Homo sapiens: one gene and its partners. The protein of the gene in region 3 binds, or shares a complex with, the protein of the main gene of each other region. Each region holds a gene or a part of one and is shown on either strand. Other genes may lie near its edges. The genes, in order: SMARCA2, SMARCA4 and PHF10.

Region 1 (7,107 bases), on a different chromosome or scaffold from region 3:
CTCTTCTTCTAAACCCAAACTGAATTGTCTTGAAGCAAATTCCAGACATAATATCCTTTCATTCATAAATATTTCAAAAAGTACTACTAAAGGCAAGGAATCAAATGGGCTTTTAACAAATAATGTCTTATATTTTAAAAAGTCTTTCTTTTTGGCATTACAAACTTTGTGGTTAACAGGAAAGATCAAATTTGGGGGATTTTTTTTTTTTTTTTTTTTTTTTTTTTTTTTGGCCACAGATCTGCACTGAGTAATGGGCCCAGGTGACTGGAGACAAGTCACTTAGCACCTGAAGTCTGGTACTGCTGAGCAATAAAATAGATACAGTAATTCCCACCTCCACCTCCCATTAAGCAACATGATGAGGTTAAACAGAATAAAACTCTGATGTACTCTAAGCCATTTTGAGAGAAATCTCTTTGTGTATCCCAATAAAAGGACACTCCAAATTATTTTTATCATGTAATGCCACGATAAAAGGAGCAAGCTGCAAAATCTTTAAGAGGCAACTCCATTGCAAAAACAAAAACAAAAACTTGGGATCTTTTGTCCAGGGGTGTCACTCTAGCATCTGCCTGAGTGACAGCAGCTTCATCACTCAGTCTAGCTGCCGTCTGCCCTGTGGATGAGCAAGAGCCTCAAATGCTATTATAACTCTAATTGCTTTCGGTTATGGTTGAACTCACTTGAAGAAAGAGTGATAAAAAACTTCAGTTTCTCTATTATCTGTATATTCCATCACTTAATTGCAAAAATTAATGATTTGCAAATGCCTAATCATTAGTGTCAAACCAATCTGTTACTGAAGTTCTAATATAGTTTCACTTCAGTTGAGTCAGACAAATTTGACTGCTTAGTGATCAAATTACTACAAAAACGGTCTAGTCAGAAACCTCTCGGACAGTCCTCTCTCCCTGGTATGGAGAGGGAGGCAGGATAGGGTAGTAAGATGTAGTAGTACCTGCACACAGAGGCTTTTAAAACATGGTGTTTACTCTCTGGAATCCAAAAAATGAAAAAAATGCAAACTGTAATACCAGCCAGGAAGACAGTGTCACTTAGAATTTTCCAGGAACATAATTATGGTCTGAGACTAATGACCTTATCTTCATCTATGCAGGCATTACGTCCTAGATAGAATCTGCAGGTCTCCTATAATTATAACATCACACACACACACGCTTTTCTAAAATCCACAGTGTGCTCTGAGGTCCAATTCCAAAAATAAATGGTCAATAAAAACAAATACTCAGGCCAATGATATAAACCTATCTCTTCTGTGCTTATATGCCCATTAAAAAATAACAGTGCAAATGTAATAATCCATGAATAGCCTTTGACCATAACAAGGCTATCACAAAAAAGGCAACATTTCAAAATCAACTTAAAAATCACTTATTACACTGTTAGAGAATAATTTCTGCCATTAAAAAAGAAAGATAAGCACCAGAGGCTTCAAAACACAGACCTTCTTAGATTTGAAGACACGACTTAATGTGTTATTCATTCCAAAAAACGTGGTCATTCATCTCAAAGAGGCCATATTTTTAAAAGAACTGCATTTGCCATCCTTCCAGATCTGGTTATCAAACTCATGCAAAATACAGTACCTGCTTTTATGAGAGAAGCTGTAATGTGTACCGCGCAATGCCACCCCAGGACACAGAAATACTATACGCATCAGTCATCCCCCTAGATTTTTGGCATGCATTCTCCAGGAAAGAGAAAAAGTTTTTACTTCATCTCCCTAAGGTTCAAAGAAATTTACTAAAATTTTTGATAAGCAGTTTTCATTTTTTCCTTCTACTACCACCATATTTAATGGTCTCATTGCAGACGGACGTGGGTTGAGTAGTTTCCTGGGCTCCTGCAGGGAGTTCCTTACCATCAGTCGCCGCATTCTCTCCTTTTCAATCCGCTCTGTCTCCTTCTTCTGCTCTCTTTCAGTGTTGGCATGCCAAGTTGCCACTGCTTTGGAGAGCTTCTGGATCTTTCCGGCCACAGACCGATGATATTCCTTAAAATCTTTTGCATGTTGCAAAATACTGTTCAGGTATTCCTAGAAGATCCAAAAAGGGAAGAAAAGGATACTTAAAATCCAATGACCAGTGTCCTCTGAGCTATCAGTGTTGTCCAAGAAAACTCTCAGTGTGTGTTTAACAGCATAGGAAGACTAGAATCTGTTTGGGGATAGGTGCCCTGGTGTCTCTGCAGTTAAGGTGTGGGCCATGGGGCTGGTGGGAAAGATAGCCTCTTCGGGTTCCTTTTGTTGTAAGCTTTAGCAAGAGAAGCCTCCTTAGCCTTGAGGGTGTGGCCACATGAGAATGGAAAGATCGAAGACTGAAAGAGACCTACAAAATGGCAATGATAAAATGTAAAGCAAACCACTCATTCACTCCAAAATAAACCTGAGGAACATGAGTATTTCCAGCAAAAAGTATGTCACAAAAGTAATGTTTTTCTGCTCTAACTACCCTAGAGTATGACACAAAATAAGTTTATACAAAGTTAAAATTGCCATGCAGAATTTGTATCCACTTTTTAAATATATACTCTATTTACACTAAAATCCAACATTTTTTCAAAAGGAAACTAAGCTAAGCACTAAATTAAGCACAGGAAAACAAATACAATTTACAGGACTATGACAGGAAATCAAATCCTACATCAAAATATTTCCAAACCCCCAGAAAGGAATGTTTTTAATATTTGCCTCTGTGAAACATTCAACTAGGCCCTTCAGAGAAGCCAGGACACTATTATATTTGTTATGAAAATAACTTTTTGCTTTCTACTTTCCTTTTCCAAGTTCCTGCTCCCAGAATTTTGCTCTAGGAAATCCACCTATGCCCACCCATTCAAAAACTTCCCATGGGATTATGAACATGACACCTGTTATGGACTGAATGTTTGTGTCCTCCCAAAATTTATATATTGAAATGCTAACTCCCAATGTAATGGTATTAGGAGGTGGGGTCTTCGGGAGGTGATAAGGTCATGAGGGTAGAGCCCTTACGAATGGGATTAGTGCCCTTATAAAGGAAGCCCGGAGAGCTTTCTTGGCCTGCTTCCACCACGTAAGAAAACAAGGAGAAGTTAACAGTTTGCAACCCAGAAGAAGACCCTCACCAGAGCCCAGCCATGCTAGTACCCTGATCTCAGGCTTCCAGCCTCCAGAACGGTGAAAAATAAACTTCTGTTGCTCATCAACCACCCAGTTTGTGCTATTTTTTTATAGCAGCCCAGACAAACTAAGACAATACTAAACCTCATTGTGCTGCTAAGCAATTGTATGACCTTGGGCAGTCATTTATACGTCCTGGCTTAAGCGTCTTTGTCTATAAAATGATGTGGTTGGATTATGTACATGTCAAGGAACCGTTCTGTTCTGTGATGTCCCCACCACCCACAAGGGTCCATTTTTCAGTCATTCTGACCCCATTTGATGAATTCATTGGACAGCTCTGCCAAAGTGAGGGTGAGCAAAGCCCAGGGTCTAAGAACCTGGTGTTTCTGACGGCGTTTCCTCTCCTGCTCAATCTTCTGCTGCTTCTCCAGCTTCTCGGTCATGCGAGCTTCTCTCAGAGTCTGGCGCTTGCTCCGTTTGTATGCTTTGGAGTTGAGAGCCGTCTCCAGGGTCGTGTCCCTGCGCATGCAGGCCACCACCTCCTGTCTCAGCTGTCAAGAAGAGAGCAGTTAGACAGCCTTCCCTAACAGAAGCTAGGTTCCTGAACTCTGGCCTTCTCGCGGTTGCATTTAATGGAATAGAGTGGGGCGGGGAATCTCCACAAGCTTCTCAATCACCTTTGGTTTGTATTAAATGAAGGAACTAAAATCATGCCAAATGTATGCAATATTTTCAAGAACGGTACAAGATTTTTCTCCCCAAATAATTCAAATCAAAAGCAATTATAGTACTGTAACAGTAAAAGAAAGAAAAGATGTTGTCTTGCCTTTTAAATAACTTCATTTTCTCTAATTATTCTAATGATACCAATTAGCTAAATAAGCTTTTTAAATTTTCCGCTTTGTTTTAAGTGTCATGTTAACATTCTCTTTGTGTTTAAAGATTAATTTTAATGATGCTCCAAAAAAAGAATAAAAGAATTACTTTCACGTGTGGTAGCAGCAGGTACTCAAACAACGTTAATTCATAGTCTCATACAAAGGATGGGAAATATGAGTTTTGGCTTCTTCCCACTCCAATAATGATCTTCTTTCCAAGAGATCTACATTTTATATTATATCATGAACTTATTTCAGATCACAAATGTAATACTTTTATCTGTATTGCATGTTATGTGGTGGTAGGGGGTAGGGACTGGAGAATACACATTAAATAATCATTCCACTGCATCTGAAATATCATTAGTTACAGTTAATTTAATTAGGAAGCTTCATAAATAACAGATTTTTAAAATAATATCAAACAAAAATCAGAAATCAATAAGAGTCCGTCATGGCAACGCTAATTTGAACATAAACATATTCCGGAAAATATACTTGGTTAATATTCATTTAGTAAGATTTTATCCAGCACTTTATTAATTCATCTTATGAGGTCACCAATAAGAAAGAAGTAAACAGAACTCAGAGAATTTTCCCTTTTCTTTTTAAAATTTAAGCTGAAATCTACTCTCACAAACCAAGAGCCAAGTAGCACCTACCCACCACTAATGTCCATCTGTGAGATTATAGCCGGTAAGGCAAATATACACCCAAATTCCTACCACAATAGCAACTGGAGTGGCCTGTGATTTTAGTCACATCCTCCAACAAACCAAGTCAATACTTCCAAACTACTTTGACTCATTAATTATTCATTTCGCATGTTCCAGACTTTAACAAAACAAACCCATCTGACTAACAATGAAACGTTCCTTATCCCCTTTGGGTTAGTGAGGCAATCTGCGGACTAGCAAACTTGAACCTTTTCAGTCCACAAGGCAAAACTCGCCAAAGTGAAAATTAGCTCTAACTCATTCCACTTGTCTCTTACTAATTTAGAAATCAGAAAATAGGTCATTATACTGGCTTTTAATAACTGCTGTAAACTACAAGAGCAGATAATTTACTGATTAGTCAATACATGAGCCTGATGTGATCAAACACTCCAAACTTAGACATCGGTGAATAAATAAGCTATAAGACATTGCTTTATGTATTTCTATAAATGATGAACCACTAATTCAGTAGCGTGGCTACCATATTTGTTAAAATTATTTTCACAGTCGTGGCAAGCACTTTACATCTGTGCTTACAAAGAAGCTCCAATCCACTACCTTCTGGTTTTTCCTTGGAGTCATAAAAGCAAACATGAGCTACCCCACTTGTTCCCAAGGTTTTTCATCCATGGTAACAAAACGCCATAACTCTGACTTTGTAACCCATAGTACAGGAGGAAAAACTCTTTCCCATATACAGAAGAGAAAACCAGAATAATAAGCAGTTCATCTTCATCATTTTTAGTTGTAAGCTGTTGGTCTAAAAGATTCACTATTTTACTATATTTATATCTTTATATCTTTGTAACAATATTGAATAGACTAAAGGCAACACAGATAACACTTTAGGAACAATTACATTTATTTCCTACATCTCAGATTCACTGGGGAAAATGTATTACCTGACGCTGGAAATTGAGTAACCGAAGTGCTTTTAGTTCCACGGTTGCTTTGGTTCTTAAATCTGGTGGCAAAGAGCCAGGCAGATTTTCCAGTTCTTGTATCCTATGAGCTATGCGGGCCTGAAGTCTAAAGGAAACAATAAAATGGGGAAAAGGGGGCAGGGGAAAAACACATTACAATTTAATCTTAAATGATAAACAATGACATTAGGTTTAAGTCCGGGGCAAAACATATTCCAGATACTGATAGTTGATCTCTAACACCCAACTAGAATTTTTGATGTTAAGCAGAGAAAAGCTACCTTTGCATTAATGCAGACAGGTATATGTTACTTAACAATGTGGCTTCCTCCATAACCTCTATCTAACACTAGGGAAAGAAGGTTCACCCTGCATCTAGTGGGGAAGTCAAATGTCCTTGCTCACTCTTAGCAGAGAGAGAATATAAGAGACAGAACCAATTGACAAGCTTTCTAACTCCCAGCCAGACAGAATGCAGAGCTGAGAGCACAGACTTTTTTCTTCCGAACTTCTAGTTCTGTCCTAAGGCAACCAGACCATTTGTCTTCTTTGCCAAGATGCTGATGACGACAGCCATTAAAGCGCAGTGAGCAAGAACAGTTTTAGGTGCTGATGCCACAGAAATCAGCCAACCCTAAACATTCAGAAAGCGCTCTGCCAGCCACAACCACTTCCTCTGTGAGCAGAGCTTGCTTGAGAAAAGAAAATACAAATGAGGCTGTTTTAAAAAAATCAGGGCCAGCAGTAAATAGTACTCAAAAACCAAGAGTTTCTAGAAAAGGATGTTGAGGATTCTCGTTTTACACACCATCAAAAATATAACTGCATGTACTTCTTCATAATAAAGGCAGAGTAGAAAATAAAAGACCTCTGACTTTAGCCATTCACTTGGGATACTATTACTGTTAGATATATAAACTGCTGGTTTTAGAGTTCACCTGAATCCTATTCTGACAAAATAATTATATGCCATTTAAGACTATTTTTAGAACTACATCCCCTAAATCTGAGGCAAACTGTACTGAACTAGATTTCAACAAAGAAAGAATAATAATAAGTAATAAGTTAAAGTAGGCTAATATTAACAGCACTAAGTGCCTTTAATGTACAATGTTATTTAATTGTCTCTCTCTTACACACACAGACACGCCTCTGTAAGGTAAAAGTTATAATGGTCCCATTTTGCTGATGAGGAAAACTGAAGACACCTGGAGATACCACAGAGCTAGTAAAGAAGGGGGCCAAGATTGGAACCTCAATTTGCCTGATACCAAAACCACTGCAATAAAATGATAGATAATTAAGATACACTTTCCGAGAACCTTCCTGGACCTCAACTATAAAAGCTGAAAATTAAGAATTCTGTTAAAAATTATGCACAGCCATAAAAAAGAACCAAATCATGTCCTTTGCAGCAACATGGATGCAGCTGGAGGCCATTATCCTAAGCAAATTAATGC
Region 2 (7,107 bases), on a different chromosome or scaffold from region 3:
GTGGCGCCTATCCAGAGGACTCCGGGTTTCATTCCAAGTGCGGGGAGGCTGCAGCATGTCCCTCTTTAATATAGAGGTGAGGGAGGCTCTCAGCACCCTGCCTGTTGCAGGGAAGCCTGAGGACAGGACCTCCAGGGAACTCTGCACCAGAGCGGAATCCTCAGACCGGCAACTGGGTGGTCTTGATTCATCCAGAACGTAATTCTCCTAGAGGTCTGGGAAGGGGTGCTCTTGTACCTTGGTTTTGTGTTTTGTTTTTGTTTGTTTTTTGAGACAGAGTCTCACTCTGTCGCCCAGGCTAGAATGCAGTGGTGCGATCTCGGCTCACTGCAACCTCTGCCACCCAGGTTCAGGTGATTCTCCTGCCTCAGCCTCCCGAGTAGCTGGGATTGCAGGTGCCTGTCACCACGCCTGGCTCATTTTTGTATTTTTAGTAGAGACGGGGTATCACTATCTTGGCCAGGCTGGTCTTGAACTCCGGACTTCGTGATCCACCCACCTCAGCCTCCCAAAGTTCTGGGGTTACAGGCGTGAGCCACTGCGCCCAGCCGCACCTTGTTTTTTTTTTGCTGCCTGTAGCTGTTTCTCATTAGCCTGATGGAGGTGGCTGTTGGGGTGGTGGGGTGCTTATTATAAAGCCTTCTGCTGTCACAGCCCTGGGGTCTCACTTCCTGGGCTCTCTGCATAGGGAGCCGCCCTCCAGGGCAAGGGCCACAGTGTGCAGTAAGCCCCCCATGGCCACAGGGCAGGGCGTTTCAAGCCAAGAGTCTGCACTGTTTGCTGGCCACTAAGGGCATTGAATGGATCACAAAACTGGCTTTTTTTTCCCCCAGTCAAATAGAAATGGGGTTTTGCCATGTTGTCCAGGCTGGTCTCAAACTCCTGGGCTCAAGCAATCCTCCCACGTTGGCCTCCCAAAGTGCTGGGATTACAGGCACGAGCCACCATATCTTTAAAAATGTAATAGAATGGAAAATGGCAAAGCGCGCTGCTTTTCATAGAAGAGACTATCGCATTGGGGTTCTTCTGTTGCCCCTGCCTGTGCTGCACGTCCTGCTTCACAGTGTAAAGCGCAACTCTTGCTGTGCCTTATTGTAACAGGTATAGGGTGGATGCTGCCATCATGAAGAGAGAGGAGAGCTCTTTGCTTATAAAATTCCGTAGAGTGGAGAACAGGATGTGCCGGCTTAGGAGAGGGAAGAGGTACAGGCCCGCTCTGCCCGAGCTGCAGATGGGACACACATTTCCCGACTCAGAGGGGAGTCGTGTCTTTCTCCAGGGTCACCGAGCAGCAAGCGCATCCACTGTGTGTTCTTATTTTCTGAGCCTGTGGACTGGGTTTACCAACAGTTGCCTGTGGCAGAGCCGGCCACCAGCCCGCTCATAGGAAAAAGGAAGCCTGTGCCTCCAGGGAGGGCCCACGATGGGAATGCAGTCTGAGAAGGGTATGTGCTCCCATGCTGGACCGGCTGGTCCCACACCCAGGACCAAAAACACCTCCTGGCAGGAGATGGGGAGATGTACTTCATGAACACACGTTGGGGAAGGACACTCCTGGAAGGCAGAGGCTCAAGGCGGGCTGTGTCCAGGCCAGGAGATTCACTCCCACCTCAATTTCCTCCTCAGCACGGCTGGCCTGGCACTGGTGCCTGCTTCAGAGTTTAGTGTGTGTAAAGTGTGGCTGGCCCAGCAAGCAGGGGATGATGGCGGTTGTCAAGGCCAGGGGAGGTGCAGGGACAGGATTCTGGCTCCCGTGTGTAACGTCTGCATCTCAGGAGGCTCTCATGTTAGAAGCTGGGTCAGGGGCTTCGTGATGCACACAAACACCAAACAAGCAGGAGGCCTTCCGGGATCCTGCTCACGAGCAGCTTCCTGGAGGCAAGCCTGGCCCGTCTGCCCCTTGGTGACATCAGGACCCCAGCAACAGAACCAGGGAAGCCACCATGTTGTCGCTGCCATTTTCCAGCGTGGTAAACAGAAGCAAGACAAGGCGCACTCAGGACACCCAAACAGACGGCGGGGCCAGCCAGTGGCATGGGCGGGCTGCCCTGCCCTCTGGAATTTTCTGGGAAAGAACATAAGGAAAGAAGCGGTGCTGATGAGGCAGCTGGAGTTATCAGGACCCAAGCTCAGCTCCTCCTTCCCATCAGGCCCCGTTGGCCACTTTTAGGCTTCGTCCGCCTGGTGGCTCCCTGCTTGGGGCCGTTCCCTGGCTAGGCCCTTCCTCTGGGCCAAAGCAGAGAGGAGAGCGCGTTTGCCATGCGTTCTCATTTTCCCAGCCTGCGGGCTGGGTTCTGTCAGAGCAAGGTCAGCTCTCAGAGCTTCTGTCCCCACCCACCCTGTCCTGCTGAGCCAGGCTCAGGTATGGGTAAGAGCTGGGAGCGCTGTGCACGAGGCCTGGCAGCATCTCATCACTGCCGCTGTACCGAGTGCACAAGGGCGCTTCCTGTGGTGTTCAGGGGGTTAGATCAGTCCCCAGTGAGGACAGAGCAGAGATCCAGATGCATCCCAGGCCGGCTGCAGTGGCTTCTGCCTCTAATCCCAGCACTTCGGGAGGCCAAGGCAGGCAGATCACGAGGTCAAGAGATCGAGACCATCCTGACCAACATGGTGAAACCCTGTCTCTACTAAAAATACAAAAATTAGCCGGGTGTGGTGGCTGGCATCTGTAATCCCAGCTACTCGGGAGGCTGAGGCAGGAGAATTGCTTGAGCCCAGGAGGCAGAGGTTGCAGTGAGCCGAGATCATTCCATTGCGCTCCAGTCTGGCGACAGAACAAGACTCTGTCTCAAAAAAAACAAAAAACAAAAAAATGTATCACAGGCCTGTTTGTGTGGTTGTCTCTGGGAAATGTTCCAGAAGCTACAAGAAAGCACATGTGCAGGCCAGGCATGGTGGCTCACACCTGTAATCCCAGCACTTTGGGATGCTGAGGCGGGCTGATCACCTGAGGTCGGGAGTTTGAGACCAGTCTGACCAACATGGAGAAACCCTGTCTCTACTAAAAATACAAAATTAGCCTGGCATGGTGGTGCACGACTGTAAAAAATCCCAGTGACTCCAAAGGCTGAGGCAGGAGAATCTCCTGAACCTGGGAGGTGGAGGTTGCAGTGAGCCGAGATCGCACCATTGCACTCCAGCCTGGGCAGCAAGAGCGAAACTCCGTCTCAAAAAAAAAAAAAGCGCATGTGCAAGAAATAGCTCCTGAGCTGAGTTGGAATTTCTCATCCTTAAACAATGTGGGAACCTGCTGAGGTGGGGTGGGGGCTCCCGGGTGGGCGGACTCGGGGGTGATAGCCGCCGGTTCTGCCTTGCAGCAGCAGTGGACGTCAGCTCAGCGAGGTCTTCATCCAGCTGCCCTCGCGAAAGGAGCTGCCCGAGTACTACGAGCTCATCCGCAAGCCCGTGGACTTCAAGAAGATAAAGGTAACCCTGACGTTGTACCTGCGCCCCGCATGTGCCCGGAGGGGAGTCTGACCCAGGGGCACCCCCATCTGAGAGCTGTGGTGTGTGGGCAGAATGACCAGAAACCACCTAGGCGGTGCCTTGGGCTACCTGGTTAGGGACCTGGTCGTGGGCTTTTGGGGTTCCTTGTAAGGGTTGGGGGTGTCCTGAGGGATGTCAGTGGGCAGTCGGTGTTGGGTGTTCCTTCAAGGTCCCACTCACTTAGTGCTGGGCCTCAGTCATGCAGTTCCCATGCCTAGTGAGCCAGGTTACCGAGGCTGGCGCTTCGGCCACATCCTCATAGGCACGAGGAATCCTAGCCCGTGGGGTCTCCAGCACACAGCCAGGCCTGCGGGCAGGCGAGGCGGGGTCCTGAGGTAAGACCTGCTCCTCCCGTCCACTGCAGGAGCGCATTCGCAACCACAAGTACCGCAGCCTCAACGACCTAGAGAAGGACGTCATGCTCCTGTGCCAGAACGCACAGACCTTCAACCTGGAGGGCTCCCTGGTGAGGGCACCGCTGGGGGTTGGGGATGGGCCACTCCCACAGCTGGGCTTTGACCCAACCCGCCCCTCCTTCCCTTCTGAATTGATGGGTTAAAAACAAGTCCCGCTAGCTGTGGTGGTTCGTGCCTGTAATCCCAGCACTTTGGGAGGCCAAGGCGGGAGGATCACTTGAGACCAGGAGTTCACGACCAGCCTGGGCAACATAACAAGACCCTGTCTTTAAAAAAAAAAAAGAAAAAATTAAAAATTTCCAACTTGGGATATTTTAGCAATTACAAAAGCAGTATGTATTTACCGAAGAAAATAAAGATAGGCACAACAGAAGAAATAGACTCAGAGTCCTCTGTCTGTTGGAATTTTATTTTAAATTCCCTGGGGCACATTCTCTTCAAAGGAATCCTGTGGGTTTGTTCTTTCCTGTGATAGAATTGACACATACACAGCCTCAACTTGGCAAACTTTCTTAAGTGTCTTTGGGATTGATTCCTCTCAGAAAAAAGACTTGACTTTGATGAGTTTGGGAAAGATGCTGGCTTCAACAAGGGGCATGTATTTCCAATGTTATTGCAGACCTCAGAGATTGTGCAGAAGGAGGGAGGCACCTGCAGCTATTCCCAAACCAGTGTGCCTGACCTTTCACCCTGGAGCATTTCAGAAGTCTGATGCTCGGGCCCCTATGGAGGAAGATTATGGAGAGGGCCTTCCACCCTGGGTGGGCTGAAGCCCCGACCCGCTGAGGCTCGCATTGGCCACTGATCAGCTGTCCAGGGGCAACACAGGGCTGGGGCTGGGGCTGGGGCCAGGGCCGGGCAGGCAGCCCTCCAGTCGGGCCCATCCACTCAAGCCCCTGGTGTCTCTGCCCAGATCTATGAAGACTCCATCGTCTTGCAGTCGGTCTTCACCAGCGTGCGGCAGAAAATCGAGAAGGAGGATGACAGTGAAGGCGAGGAGAGTGAGGAGGAGGAAGAGGGCGAGGAGGAAGGCTCCGAATCCGAATGTGAGTCCCGGGGGGGTTCAGGACGCCGGGGTTCACGCTGGCCCGAGAGCCCCCAAGGCCCCAGCTTTTCACAGCCCTCCCGGCTCCCAGACGCCCCTTGCTGTGGGGGTGCTGCATTCCCAGAGCTCAAGGCTGTCTTTCCCTCCCGGTCCCCTCCAGCTCGGTCCGTCAAAGTGAAGATCAAGCTTGGCCGGAAGGAGAAGGCACAGGACCGGCTGAAGGGCGGCCGGCGGCGGCCGAGCCGAGGGTCCCGAGCCAAGCCGGTCGTGAGTGACGATGACAGTGAGGAGGAACAAGAGGAGGTGAGGCCGGGCCCCCGAGCAGGCAGAGCTGGCATGTGGCAGGAGGCATCCCGGGGCCCTGATGGGACAGCCCTGTGGGGCGGTGCTCCCACGCCCCCACGCTGCAGGTGGGAAAGCTGAGGCTTGACCTGCCATGGCTGACCCCAGGTCACACAGCCAGTATGTGGCAGGGCTGCCACTCAAAGCCAAGCCTGTGTGACCCCGGAACCAGCTCTCAGTACCCGTGGGTGTCTGGGGACTGGGGGACACGTGAGTCCTCAGGACAGGCAGCAGGCGGTCCCAGGGCACCAGGGCTCCTGGGCTGAGGCCGGGCAGGCCAGGGCTTGATTAGGGTTGGGTAGGAGGTGCTAGGATTGGGGACCCACCAGACAGTGCCCCGTCTCCTCAGTGGCATAGAGAATGGGCAGAAACGCCAAGACCACAGTGGATAGTTTTTGGGGTGCAGTGGGGAGCCGGAGAAGATCCACTTGCTGGCTTTAAATAATCTCACCTCTGTCTCTGGCCCTTCCTGGCTGTGGGACCTGGCAGGTCACTTTGCTTCTCAAGCTTCAGTTTCCTCTTATGCAAAGCAAGGAGGCTGCATGGATTAGGGGGCTGCCCCCACCGAAGGGCCTGGCTCCCGCTGAAGCCCAGCGAATGCCATTTTGTCATCACAGAAGCAGCAAATTTCAGTGCCTGGGAATTAGTCTGACGAAAGACGCACGTGACGTTTGAGGACATTCATGAAGTCCTCATGTGGAGGGGAGGCCCCTGTGTCAGGCAGGAGGGTCTGGGCTGTGATGCTGTCTCTCTTGCCTAATCCAGAGCAGGGTGTTTTATGGCCCATGCCAGGCTGTTTAAAAAGGTTTTATGAGGCCAGGTCCAGTGGCTCACACCTGTAATCCCAGCACTTTGGGAAACTGAGGCAGGAGGCTCACTTGAGCCTGGGAGGTCGAGGCTGCAGTGAGCCGTGATAGCACCACTGCACTCCAGCCTGGGCAACAGAGCAAGACCCTGTCTTTAAAAAAAAAAAAAAAAATATATATATATATATATATATATATATATATATATATGAAAGAGCAAAGATCTTTCACAGTCAGGAAGAACCAAGATGGTTTGGAAGCTGTAGGTCAGGGGCCAAGGGCCAGGCAGGTGACATGGGACAGAGCAGGGAAGGCACGTGGAGCCTCGAAGGTCCCGAGAGGGCCGAGTGTGGTCACAGGGACTCGTCCTGTAGAGAAACATGAAGTTTGGGCATGGCCATGGCGCCATCTCGGCTCACTGCAAGCTCCACCCCCCGGGATCGCGCCATTCTCCTGCCTCAGCCTCCCAAGTAGCTGGGACTACAGGCGCCCGCCACCACGCCCGGCTAATTTTTTGTATTTTTTAGTAGAGACGGGGTTTCACCGTGTTAGCCAGGATGGTCTCGATCTCCTGACCTCGTGATCCGCCCGCCTTGGCCTTCCAAAGTGCTGGGATTACGGGCGTGAGCCACCGTGCCCGGCCCACATCAGTGTTTTCTTGAGCAAGTTTATTTAAAGTTTGGCAGGTCCCTGGCAAGGTGCCCTGGCAGGGGTGGCCAACGCACACTCTCTCCTCCTGTCCCCTCTCCAGGACCGCTCAGGAAGTGGCAGCGAAGAAGACTGAGCCCCGACATTCCAGTCTCGACCCCGAGCCCCTCGTTCCAGAGCTGAGATGGCATAGGCCTTAGCAGTAACGGGTAGCAGCAGATGTAGTTTCAGACTTGGAGTAAAACTGTATAAACAAAAGAATCTTCCATATTTATACAGCAGAGAAGCTGTAGGACTGTTTGTGACTGGCCCTGTCCTGGCATCAGTAGCATCTGTAACAGCATTAACTGTCTTAAAGAGAGAG
Region 3 (7,216 bases):
TTTTAATTGACTACTTTAGGCATTTATGTCCCTGTGAAAAGGGGACATATGAGACCGAAAACAATTCTAACTATTCACTCTTCCTCTTACACTGCTAAAATTTAGCAAAAATATACCCTAATAAGGGTCATCAATCTATAATATAGCAGCACACACACCAAAAAAAGAAGCTTGAGAGGGGGAGGGGAATTTTTTTTTTAAAGAAGATTATATATTTTTAATGTAATCCATTATGTGGCAAGAACATCAAGGTTATAAATTCAACCATTTCATTCAGAAAAAGTATCAGATGTTAGGAAATTGATTTATTTACTTATTAGCCAAGGCTTAAAGTCTAAAAATCATAATTTTTTAATGTAATATAGCTTTCAACGCTAATCCAATTTTGCTAAATACTATAGTCCTCTTGCTACATATTAAAATGAAAGCAATCCTGCAAAAGAATATAAAGAGGCAATATGGTATAGTGGCCAGGCATGCCAGAGCTGGACGGCCTGGGTTCTCACTGGGCACTGTCCCTCACTAGCTGAGTAGGTTATTCTCTGTGAGCATCTCCTTATCCGAAAATTTGAGACTATAATAGTGCCCCATTACATGGCTAATTCAATGATTAAACGAGCTACTATATTAAAAGTACTTAGAACAAGGACTGGCGAGTTATCTGATAAATATTAGTTAAAATGATGATTATGATGATAATAAAGTCTCAAATGTCTCTAGCTCCTAGGAATTAACTGGTTCTTTTCCAAATAGTAAAATATATATTCTTTTTCAGTCCTTATAAAATAAGCATTTCATTAAAGAGCTTTGCATAGTCTAAATCTACTCTCTGAAAATTTGCATAAGTATCTGCATACAACTGCAACACTGCATATTCAATACTTTCAACATAACTCATTTTAAACATTCCAGTATTTTTTCTATTTTACTGGTGAGCATTTTAAGGATTTTTATATCCTTAAACTTAAAAACATTTTCCTTTAGCTAAAAAGTTGAGACACTCAAAAATATACAAAAATAAAGTTAAAAATGCAAAGTGCTCAAAAAAGCTGAGACTACAATTTCATCAAGTGTTTTAAATTACTACTACAAATTCTAGGCAAAGGCATTATTATATAAAGTGAGCATCTGGGCAGCGGGCCTTTTTCTTGAGGGAGGTAGTAACAGCAATATTGTTCCCAATACATGACGGAATAAGGTAAGAATTTCCGTGTAACCGCAATACTGATACAGAGGCCCATGTTTTCAAAGACTCCCAAACATACTAAATCAGAGATGTGCCTTCCAGAGTTACAGGTGGTTTCCAACTACAGATCAGATGAATTTCTATGCATCACATCCTTCCTAGGGCTCAGGGGTCAAGAATGCACTCAGGGGGCACTGGCTCAGTGCCCTCCAGGTGCCGGGCCAGACGTCAAATGCTGGAAGTGCAAGGATGTGCATTCAGAGTCTTACAATCTAGTTACTTCCATTGACGACAGCCTTTGAGGAACCTTCAAAATGAGTCTCACAGCACGGTGGACGTGCGCAACGGGAAAAGCTCCCAAGCAGGCGCAGCCCGGCTAGGCTGCTACAGGACGGCTTCCCCTGCCAACGCGCACACGGCACACCGCGCACCGCACGAAGGCTGGCTGGCTCTGCAGCATTCCAGTTCCCACCGCCTTCTAATTTCAATCCAATTTCAAGCTTCCAGGCTTTTAAAACATCATTCCTCCCTTCCAACTTTCTGTCACAAACTGCTAGCCTAACTTTAGAACCAAAACGTTTTGATGCGTGACACTACTGCTCATCTCCATTTTCTCCACAAGCACCAATTTCTTTTCACCTCCTCAAGCAGTAAAAAGTTTTAACAGACTTCCGCTGAAAACATCCGGACGCTTGCGTATTAACTTAGTTATTACAGTAAGTTCACTGAGTGTGTTGATTTTCCATATCGTTCGCCACTCGGTTTTTGCAGTAAGCGTTCAAACACTTCGGCAAACTATGCGCGGAATGAACGCTGAGCGAACGCGCGCTTCTGCAGGCCCCTCCGAGGCCAACTCTCTCGGCCCCGGGCGCGTTCCGTCCCACGGCTGGCCTAGGAGGAGGCGTTTTGGGGACAAGCTTGTCAAGCAGGGCCGGCTGCCAACTTCGGGGAAGCCGCGCCGCGTCCCCCGCCCGCCCGCACTTGTTGCTCGCTAGAGGCCGCGGGCTCACCTCGGGGCCCCGCCTCGCCGACCACCCCCGGTCTCAGGCGCGGCGCCCGGCCTGGGCCCACGCCCCCGAGACGCTGGGCGGCCGCCGGTGGGACTGGGCCCACGCCCCGGCACCCAGGCCCGGGACGGGGTCAGGGTCGGGTCGCACCGGCCGCTTCCTCACCTTCGGGGACTGCGCTCCGGGGGTGGCTGGGTCGCTGTCGCACGGCCGCGGGGACAGCGCAGCCCCGGGCCCGGCCGCCGCCGCCATCAGCCCGAGCGCCCCGCGCCGCCGCCGCCGCCGTCGCCTCCGCCTTGTCCCGGCCGCCGCCGCCGCTGCCGCCGCCGCCGCCGCCGCCGCCGCGCGGGCCCCCCGCCGCCCCGGCCCCGCCCCCTCCGCCCGCCCGCCCGGGGGCCGGCCCCTGCCGCCGCGCGCCCCGCGGCCCGCCAGCGCCGCCGCCACCGCCATGGCCGTCGCCAGCGCGCCGCCCGCGCGGGAGGGCGCCAAAGGCTGGGAGGGCGCGGGGCTGCGGGCCGGAATGGAGGAGGCCCAGCGGCGGCGGCGCTTCTCACGTCAGCCCAACCCGCCCGGCCGCGGCCACCGCCTCAGCACCGTTGCCCCCCACAGCTCCGCCGCTGGCCTCAGCGCCGCCGCGACTCCCTTCAGCCCCGCCACTCGCTCGCCTCAGCCCCGCCGCTCGCTCGCCTCAGCCCCGCGGCCGCCTCAGCCCCGCCGCTCGCCTCAGCCCCGCCGCTCGCCTCAGCCCCGCCGCTCCCCTCAGCCCCGCGGCCGCCTCAGCCCCGCCGCCGCCTGGCTCCCCACGGCCCGGCGTTGTACTCGGCCGCGGCTCCCCCCAGCCCCCGGCGCGCCCCACCTCCCGCCCGCCCTCCGGCCCGCCCCGGCCCGGCACGTCGCCACTTGGCGCGCTCGCAGCCGCCCCCTCCCCGCGGCCCCCGGCCCGGCCCCTCCGCGCGTCACCCTCGTTCCCTCCCTCTCTCCGCGCCCCCGCCGCGCCCCTCCCCGCCCCTCCCGGGGGTCCCCGCCCCGCCCCCTCTCTGCCGGGGGTCGCCCTGCCCGGAGCAGTCGCGCGGAGACTGCGCGGCCTCCGCCTCTACGCGCTCGCGGTCGCCGCTCCTCTCCCGCCTTTGTTCTCGGGTCGCCCCTCTCGCTGGTGGCGCTCCGAGAGAGCAGCGGAGCCACCTGCCCAGGCCACGCTTCCCCGAGCATCCGCAGCTGCACCCGGGGGCTGTCGGCGCCCGCCCCGGAGCGTGCGGGAGGCACAGCGGGAAGAAGTCGCTGAGATTCGGCCCTCGTGGCTTTGCGTGCCCGCGTGGTTGATGCCTCCGCCGAGAACGCGGTCGGCCGGGAGCCGGGGAGGAGCGTGGACGCCGGCCTGGCAGGTACCCCCGCGAGAACGTGGGAGCCGGTGTATTTCAGCTGCATTTATTACTGATCTCGGGCTGCACCAGGGCACTTGTAGGACCGCACTAAAAACAGCGGAAAGTGAGGAGCCAAGCCTGGGTCCGGGGCGGCCCGCCGTACAGCTGGCCTCACGGATTCCACTGCCTGCGCCTGCAGATGACTTGTTCTGGAGAGTAGAGAATGTTCTCGGATTTAAAGTACAATCCGGTTTCCTTTCCATTCATTATAGTTGCCTACACTCAACAAACAAAAGTTGGGAAAGATAAAGGGATTATTCTAGCGCGTCACATTGACAAACACCGACGTTAACACGCTCAGTCCAGCCTGACTCACTTGCCTCAGGTCAGAGAGGTCACCACTGACGACGCCGGGCCCTCAAGCCGATCCTAATCCAGCTTGGTTCTCTCAGCCTCAGCCAGACCATCCGTTCTTGCCTCTGTCCCACCACGTGCAGGTGTAAGCTTCCGCCGCACTTCTTGTCTGAATCTGCCAAGAAGAAACTGCATCTTTCAGCTAAATTCTTTTCACTGATCAGGGTAGAGTTTAGCGGTTTTTTTTTTAAGAAAAAAAACAAAAACAAAAAAAAACTCTTAAGCTATTTGGTACTCCTCTCCCTCCGGGATTCTGTCTCTAGATTGTGAAAGCTGTCAGAGAATGGAGTCAGGGAAAGCCGTGATGGGAAAGTTCTCACTAATAATTGCCTGATATAAAGAATTAGCACAAAAGACTGCCAAAACCACAACCTTGCACAAAGGCCACAAAACTACACAAAAAAATGCTTCAAGGACATTTGCGCAGCAACTGCCTGTCCAACCTTGGACTGGCCATCCCCTTTGTTACTGATCTTTGTAGCCAAGGATAATTGTTTCAAAACAACTTACGTAATCCTCCTCGTTTTTCCTTTTAAACCCCTTATCTTCCTTTACCTCCCTGAATACACCTATAGTTTACTATGACACCATATTCTACATTGCAATGCCCACTTTCAAATAAATTTGTCATGTTTGGCAAACCTGTCTGTTATTTAGGTTGACAAGATCAAATGCAAATTTATTCTGGAGTCAACAAATAACTGATTCAGTCTTCCAATGTGCAAGGCAAAGAAGAATATTAAGGAGACACTGTATAGATTAGATCCCTGCCTATAGGCAGCTTCAACACTAATACAATATGGTACGAATATATAATTGTACTTTAAGGCAGCTTAGGTGGGAAAACAACTAGCAACTAAAAAAAAAAATGGAGTTTACTACCAACTAAAAAAAATGGAGGTTTCAAGGTTGACCTAGAATTTGAAAACTGCTTTAAAGACAGGTAAGAAAGACACAGGTAGATGTGCAATGGAAGTAGAAATTGGGTTTCAAGCCCCAAACAGGCTGAGGGGTGGGAAAATAGACATATTCAGGTACATCAATCGTTCCAGTTTGGCATAAGAATGAGATAAATGAAGATGGATTCTAGGAGTTAAGGATGAAATATGTAGGGAGGTACTATGATGTAATGGAGAGAACAAAGATTTCAAGTTAAGACTTTGGTTTAAATCCCAGCTGTGCCTCTTATTAGCTGTGTGATCAAAGGTAAATTAGTTAATCTCTCTGACCCTCCATTTCCTCATTTGTATGATAACAATAATGTCCAATTATTCCACAAATATTTTATGGCAAGCCAAGTATTAACTAAGAACTATGTTAAATGATGAAGATATAAAAAAACCATTTATTCATTCATTCATCAAATGAATGCCTTACTGTTTACTAAGTTACACCCTGAGTTAGGCCCTGGAAATACTGATAAGGGGGAAAAAAGCATGAAACCGTATGAGACCACTTAGATTATGCAGATATACGTGAAAATAAGGCCCAAGACCAAGAAGTCCAAAGGTACTCAACTTGTGGAAGTAAGATAGAGAAGGAAAAAAAAGAAAACTAAGTGTAAAGTACTGTAAACTGAAAGGAGAGAGTGTTTTAAAAGAGGGACTGGTCAGCTCTCCTAATGGAGAAGTTAGTAAGGTGGCAGAGAAGAATACATTGTATTTATCAACCTGGAGGTAATTAACTGTCTTGACTGTTTCAAGCTATTTCAGCAAAGTGGTGGTTTCAGAAACTAAATTAAAGCAGATTAAGGGAGGAATGGAAGCCTAGGAATTGGAGCCAGAGTATAGACAACTCTTCTGTGTAGTTTTATTATAAAAAGTAATGGAGAAAGAGAGTATCTGGAGAGGTGGTAGGGATGTTTTTAAGATGGAAGACATTAGCACATGTTGGTATACTGAAAAGAATGACTGAGTAGGAAGGCAGAAAACCATGATTGAGCAGAGAGAGGAAATGCTACTGGAAGGCAGCTTGTGAGAAGGCAAGGAAAAATGGGCTCCAGAGCACAGGTATTAGACAGGAAGCAGAATCCACCCAATTTAACAGGAAAGACAGAAGGTGGTCGCAGCTGCAAGCAGGTGAGTGGAAAACTTGAAGGTTTGTTTTTTTGTTTTTTTGTTTTTTTTTGAGACAGAGACTCACTCTGTTGCCCAGGTTGGAGTGCAGTGGCCTGATCTCGGCTCACTGCAAGCTCCACCTCCTGGGTTCACGCCATTCTCCTGCCTCAGCCTCCCAAGTAGCTGGGACTACAGGTGCCCGCTACCACACCTGGCTAATTTTTTGTATTTTTAGTAGAGACGGAGTTTCACCATGTTAGCCAGGATGGTCTCGATCTCCTGACCTCATGATCTGCCTGCCTCGGCCTCCCAAAGTGCTGGGATTACAGGCGTGAGCCACTGCACCCAGCCAACTTGAAGGATTTTTATTTCTGATATATTTTCTTTCCTTCATGAAATATAAAGGGAAAATCAGCTGACAGTTGTGTAGGGGAGAGAGATACAGAAGATCTGAGGAAGAAGGAGGTGTGTCAGCAGGAAAGCAAAGTTTCCAGGATGCCAAGTGTTTTGCCTTCTTGAGAGTTATGGTCATGAATTTAAAGTGAAACTACTCGGTCTGGCTTTGTCAGGTTCTCAGTCAAGTTTACCTACTTGGATTCAGGCTTGGACAAAGTGGATAATGGGGTTCATTCAGGAAGGGGTTTTCCAGGTGAGGAAGAGGGACAAAGAAATTGAAGTCTGTTTGTAAAGGAGTGATTATAATGATGAGCCATGATATCTAAGCTGGACAAGGTAGGAAATTTGAGGGCTATAAATGGTGAAAAAAGCCAATGAACTGGAGATTTCAATAAGATTAGAGAATGGCTGTCTTCGGGGTACTAGAGGTGGTGAGCTGGAAGGACAGGAAATGATTGCATGAGAATAACTTGCTTGAAATAAAGATTTCAGAAGTCATACTAATATTGGCGACAGCAAAGTCTAGAGGGGTAAAAGGCAACTGAATGTGAGTTGGTTAAGGAATTAGAAAGCATACAGCCAGTCCTAGCTTGGCATGGTAGAACATGACTAGAAAAATGACCATGGAAGTTGAAATTGTGCAAAGTGATCTTAATAATCAAAGAGAAAAATTAAAATTGTTCTGTGACACTTAAGAACTTTTGTTGAAACATCAAAAACTCTGTTACTGCTACGTAGACATATCAGGAATTTTTTAAATTGTAAAACTAATTTATTTAGTATGCCATAATTTAA

Evidence for each region.
Region 1: PHF10 (region 3) and SMARCA2 share a complex: the UniProt entries of both Homo sapiens proteins name them as parts of the neural progenitors-specific chromatin remodeling complex.
Region 2: PHF10 (region 3) and SMARCA4 share a complex: the UniProt entries of both Homo sapiens proteins name them as parts of the neural progenitors-specific chromatin remodeling complex.

What each region holds. Positions count from the first base shown.
Region 1 is NC_000009.12:2,053,243-2,060,349, reverse strand, and holds part of SMARCA2 (SWI/SNF-related matrix-associated actin-dependent regulator of chromatin subfamily A member 2), read right to left. Parts: intron 5,754-7,107; coding exon 5,627-5,753; intron 3,679-5,626; coding exon 3,505-3,678; intron 2,060-3,504; coding exon 1,886-2,059; intron 1-1,885. UniProt on the Homo sapiens protein: ATPase involved in transcriptional activation and repression of select genes by chromatin remodeling (alteration of DNA-nucleosome topology).
Region 2 is NC_000019.10:11,054,938-11,062,044, forward strand, and holds part of SMARCA4 (SWI/SNF-related matrix-associated actin-dependent regulator of chromatin subfamily A member 4), read left to right. Parts: intron 1-3,317; coding exon 3,318-3,426; intron 3,427-3,850; coding exon 3,851-3,952; intron 3,953-4,815; coding exon 4,816-4,948; intron 4,949-5,107; coding exon 5,108-5,250; intron 5,251-6,846; coding exon 6,847-6,879; 3' UTR 6,880-7,107. UniProt on the Homo sapiens protein: ATPase involved in transcriptional activation and repression of select genes by chromatin remodeling (alteration of DNA-nucleosome topology).
Region 3 is NC_000006.12:169,721,487-169,728,702, forward strand, and holds the start of PHF10 (PHD finger protein 10), read right to left. Parts: upstream 3,015-7,216; 5' UTR 2,446-3,014; coding exon 2,359-2,445; intron 1-2,358. UniProt on the Homo sapiens protein: Involved in transcription activity regulation by chromatin remodeling. Belongs to the neural progenitors-specific chromatin remodeling complex (npBAF complex) and is required for the proliferation of neural progenitors.